Linked DNA regions of Homo sapiens: all the other regions are linked to region 1. Evidence: fine-mapped expression QTL. A gene starts in region 1. Each other region holds a variant in brackets. All regions are shown on one strand. Distances are between the middles of the regions. Region 1 holds the start of MPDZ (multiple PDZ domain crumbs cell polarity complex component). Region 2 overlaps MPDZ (multiple PDZ domain crumbs cell polarity complex component). Region 3 overlaps MPDZ (multiple PDZ domain crumbs cell polarity complex component).

Region 1 (2,766 bases):
AGCCTCCAACCGCAGCCCCTACTGCAAAAAGGCAGTCAGTGCCCATTGCCGGGGTCTTCCCAAGCGGAGCACCTCAAAAGCCGCACCGCGCAGTAGAGGTCTCCAGGGGCCCCCACTCGCCCCCAGTGACTACGGAGCGGCCTCTACCTCCCGCCGGCGCCTGGCCACTTCTCCTCCCCCGCAGTCTCCGCTTGATTTCCATGTGACTGCAGGCAAGAATAGCCCAGCCTTTGTGCCTCTGCAAAGAACGCAAACAAAAATGTACACCATCACCACCCAACAAACGCGCAACTCCGCAAGACACAAAGCGTCTCCCAAACATCGCTTCCCTGGTAACATCCGGCATCCTGGGGCTGCCAAATCGCAGACAAAGACGCCCATCAGCGCGGGGGGTGAGGAGACTAAGGGAGAGACAAGACCAACGTGCTCCCACCAACGGGAGCGGCGGTTAAAAGGGCGCCGGTGCCAGGGGTGAGGGACGGGGCACCGGTACCAATTAGCGGCTCGCCTCGGGGTCCCCGCGGCTAAGGCGAGAACGCAGGACCAGGAGCATTGCTGCCCACTCTCTACCGCAACCCGCACATCCCGGGACCACGTAACGGCGGATGGGGCGTCCGGGAGCGGCCCCTGCAGGGGAGAGCAACAGGCTCCCGCGCCCTGGAGGCCTGGTCTGCGCTCCGGGCCCCCAGGCTAACACCCCACCCCCAGCCCCCCGACACCAAGACTGTGCCCCTCTGGGTCAAGGAAAAGGAAAAACTTTTAAACCTCTTAGTCAGCGAGAGCAAAAGAAAGGGGTGGCGGGGGTGCTGAAAGGTCTAGGATTATCCACCGCGGGGCTGGGGGGAGTGGAGACTTGCGAGTAGCAAAGGAAACTTCTAGACCCCATCCTTTTAAAAAAGCCACAGCAGCGGCTTCCGCGAAGCGCCGGGCCGCGCGGGGTGGGGCAAGCGCACCGCCCCACCGCCCCACGGCCCGCCGCCACCCCTACCCCCACCCCCACCCCCACCCCCATCCCCGCCCCCACCCCCACCCCCAAGCGCCGAGCCCAGGGCGCCCGCGCACCTTCCCCGCCGGCGCGCGCGCAGGGCGCGGGGGCGCGCCTCGGCCTCTGGGCCGGGGCTCAAGCGCCGCTTACCCGGCTCGCGGCGCCCGCCCAGGGCCGCGACGCGAGGGGGCGGAGGACTGGGGAGCAGGGGTCGCCGGGGCCTCTGGATGCCTCGCCTCGCCCACGCTCACTGTCTTCTCTTCTGAAGTAACGACCCGGCGAGGAGCTTCGGATCAAAACGCACAGACACTCACGCGTGACTGAGAAACTTAATCCCGCGGTGGCCCGACGCCAGCCTAGCGCTCCGCCGCGCCCCCTCCCCCAGCGCGCGCCGCACTTGCGCCGACCGGGGCTGCCGCGGAGGCGGTGGCGGGGCCCAGGCTGCTGGGGCTGCCGTGACGCCTGCGACCGGCGGGGCGGCGGGCGCGCCTTGGCCAATCAGGGGACGCGGCCGAGCAGGCCTGTGCGGGGTTTTAAACTCGCTCCTGGGCCGCTCGACCTGGGGTGTGGGTAGTGGACTTGTGAGGTGGTCAGATAAAATATAGGCTGCTCTGTTAAATGGGAATTTCAAATAAAAAAAAAAAGGAATAATTTTAGTACAAGTATATCCCATGCAATATTTGGGACGTACTTATGCTAAAAAGTTCTTCGTTGTTTATCGGAAATTCAAATTTAATGGCAGTCTTGTATTTTTATCTGCCGATTTTGTCAACCTGCGGAAACTGATAGCCTGTTTCTAGCTCCTCAGATTTTCCTTATGTGCACTGCCCTGTGGATGCTTTCTGCATGGGTAGCTTACTGAATGGCATAGGATGCTTATGAGAAGCGCTTTAATCAGAAGGGTGGGGGCAGTCCTCTCACTTTCTAAGTAACTTTTCGCACATCAGGGTGCATTCTTAGTCTGATGATCCAATTAAAAAGCAAAAACAGTAAACATGGAAAAGTTATTAGAGTTGCATGGCCCCAGGAAGAACAGATATTCATTTCTATTTTGTGCCACTTAAGATTTTCTTTCTGTTATCCTCAATTTGGAAGTCCCACGAATTTTTTTCTGCATAAGAAACTCTTTTTCAAAATATCCCTCTGATATTAGATTATAGGACCAAAGGATACTCAGAAGTCCAATTTAGAACATTTAAAAGAATTTCTTTTAATATTCTGAATAAAAATACTTTTTTCTCATATTCCTTGGACTTTCAAACACATTCACAGCTGTTGACCTCTCTCTTCCTAGAGTCCTCCCCACCCCACCCCTCTTGTAATTCCATGCAATCACACTCTTGGTTTTGCTTCTTCCGCTTAGTCAAGGGCGGATGTATGGGCTCTGAAGCTTGTACAATTGGGAGCTCTGCTTTAACCAAAAAAAAAAAAAAAATCTTTCTTTAGAAAAATTCAAAAAATAAATGCCCATGTAAACACATTGCTAGGGTTGCTCCCAGGCAAGAGAAGGACCCGGAACGTTAAGCTACATCAATTTCCAGGTAGATCTGCCCCTGTCCCCAGGCCACTCTTCAGTCTTCTTTGCCTCCTCTCCCCCAATCTTTAGATGCTGGAATTCCTTAAAAATCAGTTACGGGCCCTCTTTTCCTTTTAACTCTTACCTCTAAATACATTTTCACTTCTAGCTTATGATCTCGTACCTACAGAATCTTACATTTATACCTTCAGATTTATCCATATATTCAAGTGTTTATTTGGCTTCCCTGTTTGCTTGTCTCAAA
Region 2 (2,766 bases), 150 kb before region 1:
CTGGAATCAAGGTGCCCTTAGCAATATATTTTTGGAGAGCAAAGAATACTATTCCCTTGTTTTAGAGATGAAGAAGCTGAGGCTTTGAGTGGGTAGGTTTCCTAAGATGCCACAGCTGCTTAATGTACAGCACATAGATTGCCTGCCTAACAGTCCAGTACTCTTTTTCCAGAAGTCCTCTCTTTATATCCTGCCCTCACCATAGGGCTCCCTGACTACAACCTTCCAAACAGTGAGCCACAGGTAGGCAGCTGGCTCCCAAGCAGAAACCCTCTGCTGAGTTCAGGTGTTCCATATGTGCAGGACTCTCATGAGTCCAGAGGCCTTACTTCGGATGGACTCCGGTTCTGGGGAGCCAGACTGTGGGACCATCAGAGACTGGGAGCTGTTCTTTTTTTCTCCACTGGCTGCACCAGCTGCTGAAGGAACAGCCTGGGAATCTGGATTCTCAGCATGGATGGTAAGTTTTACTGTCATCTTTGCTGTCTTCAGAAGGCTAATAAACTGGCAGGGTGTATGTGTGGAAGAGAAACAAAATTCAAAGCTGAATTAGTAGACATACCAATGAGTCACCATTATCAATGGAATCTAATTCTCTCTATGGTTAAGGGGAGGGACAGATGCAAATTATTTCTTTGTCAGGACTTGGGTAAAGAAAGAAATGGCTCTAGTTTCTCTCTAGCTTTTCCAAATGCTTGATGTAGATTAGGGCCATGGTTAATTTCTACTCTAAGTCTAGCTCTGACCACATTTTTTTCTTATATAAGACTTTCAACTTTTTACATCTCTAATCTCATCCGTTTTTCTGAATGCCTACAACCTTAGAAGATATATGGGTTATTTTACCTACTTCCTGATTCTATAGAAGCAACTTACACAAACAGTTTTAATAAAATAGAAACACATATGTTAGAAGCAGAATAAGAAAAGTATACAACAAAAAAGTCAAGGTAAACGAAAAGTTAAAACACAGATTTATGGGTTAAAGGATCTGGCCTAAATACTTACTAAAAACTGAATTTTTAAAAAGTAACTTTAAGCTTCTTACTGTACAATGAAGAAATGATAAGTTATATGGTTCTCTCTCACTATAAGAAAGAAAAAGCATACCATATTTCAAGGAAACAAAGCTTTTTTCTGGCACTAATAAATAAAAGGCCTCAAATGAGA[T/C]ACCAAATAAGTATTAAGATCTCTTTTGAGGAGAGGGAACTCAAGTACAAGATATGTTTAACCCTAATAAAAATTACGTATTTAATGGTTGAGTCTTACAATCTGTTTATAAAGTAGTATACACAATGGATATTTATAACAGCAAACATTCATTAAAAAATATTTTGGCACTAACAGTCACTGTTAAGGAGTTTAAAGTTTTCCTAAGGAAAAAATGGAAATATTTATCAAAACTGCCCAGTGAATATTGAATAATTTGTGTGGCAACGAAAAATACCTTAACACCAACTGGAAAATAAGAAATAGAAATTGAAGAACTTCTGAACAATCTCTTCTTTTCCTTAAGAACATGTCTAATACAGCTACATAACCCTAATTCTCTATGATCGCAGACACAAACACTTTAATCATGCCCAAGGATGGGCCTACATTACCATTTACTTTATTTTGGAAAATTACCTTTTCAATAGGGTAACCAACAACAATTTCATCATCTACAGCCAGTATCTGATCTCCGACTTTGAGTCGTCCATCCTAAATGGAAACGTAGAAGAATTTGAGTGATATTCCAAAAGTAATTCCCTCCCCAACTACTTAATGACAGCAAGAAAGGTAAACCTCACCGTGGCTGCTACCCCATGCTCTGTTAAGCTCTTTATGATGACTCCACTGAGTGTATCTTCTTCGCTGATAGCAATACCCAAACCCCCCTGATCCTAGAAAAGTAAAAACAAAAATGCTCAGAAGACTTGAAACAGATTAATTTTATCCAAATGGATACCAAGGGTAAGAAAAACAACTAAAACTCTTCTGAAGTCCAGAAATCTAAGACCTTAGACTTTAAATCTAAGATCTTAGAAATCTTGTCTTTTCTTAAACAAACTTTCAAATTTTCCTAATGGGAATAAATTTTCCTCCATCAAACATTCAAGTGTTTTCACTCTTCCCATATGTCTGACATCTTTAGTAACTTTAGCAAAATATCTAGACAGCAAAAATACATTCAATAATTCAACCAAAACATTCAGCATTTACAAATTTTGTCTAATGACTGAATAAGTCATTCAAAACCAACCAAAGAATCCCGCTTCTTCTCTGGCCTGTCGCTTGGAAATAACAACAGGGTCTAGCCCCTTCATTCTTTTCTGCCCCTCTTCTTCCTTTAGCAGGCAGTCTGCCATTACTGATGCAGACTCTGTCCTTTTGGGGGGTGAACACTCAGACTTGTTTCTCCAGACAACAGCATTTCAATCTGCTGCAGACTGAAAATGCCTCTCAGTCCCAAGACAAGCTCTGAGAACCTGCCAAGGCTGGGGAGCTACACCTACTTCGCTACATTTTCCACATTTCCCTTTATCAAAACCAAATGTTCAGAAATATTGGCTTTTAGCTTTCTTTAATGTTTACTTTAATAAAATTAAAACAGAGTTTTTAACATTTTCATTGCCAGAGCTAGCCACCTTCTAATTTTTTCTCCAGAGAAAAGTTACAAAAAGCAAAGAAAAGAAAAGAGAATCTTGACATGGTTTCTCTGAAATATACACACAAGTTAAATGTGCCATCAGAGATGTTTATGGTCATGGCTGTGACATCAAG
Region 3 (2,766 bases), 170 kb before region 1:
AAAAACATATACAGGCAGGATACTTCTCTTTCTACAATGTCATCTTCCTCTCATCTATGAGGAGTCTATGAATCTTTAGTGCTAGAAAAAATTGTGGAGGTAAAAAATATTAAGCTTTCCATAATGATGTTGTCCAAAGTTCCTTTAGCTGTAACTATGGACACCATATGTGCAGTTAGACATGATAAAAACCAATTTTAAGTTGTAAATCTTGAACAGTATATAACAAAGCTTTTCCACAGTAAAAAGAACAAAAAAAATGCTTGCTGCTTATTTGTGCACCACTGAAAATTCTTATTTATTCACTTTAATTCTGCATTTACACAAAAATGCTGTAATAAAATATCTGTACACTACTTCTGTTACAAATATAGATATTTAAAGTGACTTTATATATTCTAATGTAGGAGTTTCACGCTCTAAAATGGGAATGAACACATGATAATTCCTCACCAGTTGTCTCAATAAACAGCTCCATCTGTTTCCCTTAGTCTTAAACTATTGTATTATAAGATGTTAATATAAGTCAATGAAATGAAGTTATGTTAATCCCCTTAATTTTTCTATCAATTTACTAATGGCATACAACCAAAATAATTAGTAACACATTGTTCTCTGTCATTAAGATTAATATGAATTGAAAACCAATTGCACAGCACACTAACACATTTTTAATGTTGCATCGGTTGTTAAAACCAGCACTAAAGATTCTGGAACCCTTCTATGTTCCTCTATGGTTAGCAGCATAGTTGCTTTCTAGAAAAACCATAGTCAACATGGGGTGGCATCATCATTTACTTATAGCAACATGAAAATATTTTACAAAAGGTCAAAAATAAGAATGAAAATTGAAATGTGCATTAAATATAATTTCTTTATAAAATTTAGGGACATTGCTTCATGTATTTGCCATTTACTCAATTGTAGAAACCAATTTTAGCAGGAAAAATATATATGCATATTAGAGGTGGGGAGATGCAATGTTTTTATAATACTGTTGAAAATTTTAAAATACTGACAGTATTTTTAAAGATTTTCATTAGAAAACCTTTTTTTCTTTTTTTAGTTTGGGGTGGGGAGAGGAGGTAGATTGCCAAATTGAGGCATTTTTTTTAAACTCCCCGAGATTTTCTTCTTTATTTTATATTTTCATTTTTCATCCTAA[T/C]TTACTGAAGCCATTTTCTTTGGTTAGCTTTAGAATTATCTTTCTTTATACTAACCAGCTTAGCATGTAATAATTCTTGCCCATGTGACTACAAAACATTAGATATCTCCACAAATAAAAACGAGATTCACCTACACAAATATTCCTTCTCTTTAAGTTCACAAAATGCAAGAAGAAAAGAAAAATGATGTTAGGTTGTCAGTAAGGAAAGCATTTCTAGATGAGAAAAAGAAACTTAAGTGTTATTTCCCCCCTACAGTTTTGAAGACCCGGCTGAACACAGCATAAAAATTGTCAGGACCAGTGCATTCTCTTTACAGTAGGAGGTGAGCTAGGGGTTGGGTTGGTTCAATTCTGGCAGCCAATTCAAGAGAGAACCATCAAAGTGACAGTGCCTTTTGTCCGTTTAAGGATGGCAACAGCTTCTTCATGGGTGACTCCTTCTAGACTCTGCCCATTGACAGCAATGATCTGATCGCCCCTTTTCAGACGTCCGTCTTCAGAGGCTGCTCCCTGCAAATTATAAAGTAGACTTGTTTATTTCTCAAAAAATGCTGCCTTGCAACTCACAACAGAAAAAGATCTCAACAGGAATGTAAATTGCTCTGCTTGTACACACACACTGCTCCCAGTGCTCCATGGGTGCTCTAAGCCATTAAGCAATGATGAACATAGACAAAGAAGGTCTTTCTCCTAAATGGTTTTAGCATTGAGATACCAATTTGAGAGAGAATTTAGCAGTCGATAGATCAGTTGGATGGGTTTTTGGCTGTTCAGCACAGCAGTTGGTGGGAACACAAATTAATAAAGAATATTTGGGAATTTGCCTAGTAGGAATGATTCAATAGAATCCAGGATTTTCTATCCTGTAAATAAGACCTACAGAAAGAAGGTAAAGGATTAGGTAGGAACAAAAACAGTTTTACAGGACAAGGGCTTGGGGGATGACAAAATCCAAAGGTCTGCAAAAGCACAAAGCCACCTGAACATTCCCTATGGCAGGATAAGGCATAAGTTCTAAATTTAAAACCCACTGCTATTTCTTTTTGTGGTTTTGAAAAAGCTATTCAAGCTGTCTTAGTTCTTACTTCCCAAGGGTAGAGAGATTCTTCATATTCCTTATGGACCCTAAATGATTAAGATTAAATACAGACATTGGTGTTAGAAAAAGAACCCCATCTTAAAGCACGCTTATAGAAGACAATTATGCAATTAAATATAAAATTAAAAATATGGAAAAGTTAATGAGGAATCCATAATGATGAAATTCTTAAAATATGTTCTAACTAGCATGCCTTAAATAAATTGTTCCTAGGCTGAGGAAAAGGACTGTATGACTCTTCTATTCACTAGCAAATGCTGTTTGTATTTTTGGACATACCGATAGCTTTTTTAAAAATCTTATAAATTAAGCCTATAGCTAGCTTGTTGTAGGTACAACACTTTAAATTGGCTAAAAAAAAGATCTTTTCCAAAATAATAAAATAAAATATCCATAAAGAACTATACCACTAATCCAAAGGCCCTGTATCAAATTTTTAAACACGTTTGACTAAGTTTTGTTTCTTTTGACACTGTAAAATTTTGAGATTCTAAATTTT

The links. PIP is the estimated chance that this variant, and not a neighbour inherited with it, causes the effect.
Region 2: its variant is the best candidate, but not a certain one, in a credible set for the expression of MPDZ in tibial nerve (GTEx, PIP 0.64).
Region 3: its variant is the best candidate, but not a certain one, in a credible set for the expression of MPDZ in fibroblasts (GTEx, PIP 0.88).

What each region holds. Positions count from the first base shown.
Region 1 is chr9:13,278,265-13,281,030 of GRCh38, forward strand. It overlaps MPDZ (multiple PDZ domain crumbs cell polarity complex component), which reads right to left and starts at 1,428. Exons shown (of 47, transcript NM_001378778.1): 1 at 1,136-1,428. RefSeq lists enhancers at 1-335, 336-1,051.
Region 2 is chr9:13,124,887-13,127,652 of GRCh38, forward strand. MPDZ (multiple PDZ domain crumbs cell polarity complex component) reads right to left here. Exons shown (of 47, transcript NM_001378778.1): 33 at 1,794-1,886; 34 at 1,630-1,704; 35 at 330-504. Among named protein-coding and RNA genes, the nearest start is that of MPDZ, 150 kb to the right of the region's middle. The variant T/C (reference allele first, on the strand shown) is at 1,171.
Region 3 is chr9:13,105,434-13,108,199 of GRCh38, forward strand. MPDZ (multiple PDZ domain crumbs cell polarity complex component) reads right to left here. Exons shown (of 47, transcript NM_001378778.1): 47 at 274-1,678. The coding sequence ends at 1,532. Among named protein-coding and RNA genes, the nearest start is that of SNORD137, 130 kb to the left of the region's middle. The variant T/C (reference allele first, on the strand shown) is at 1,166.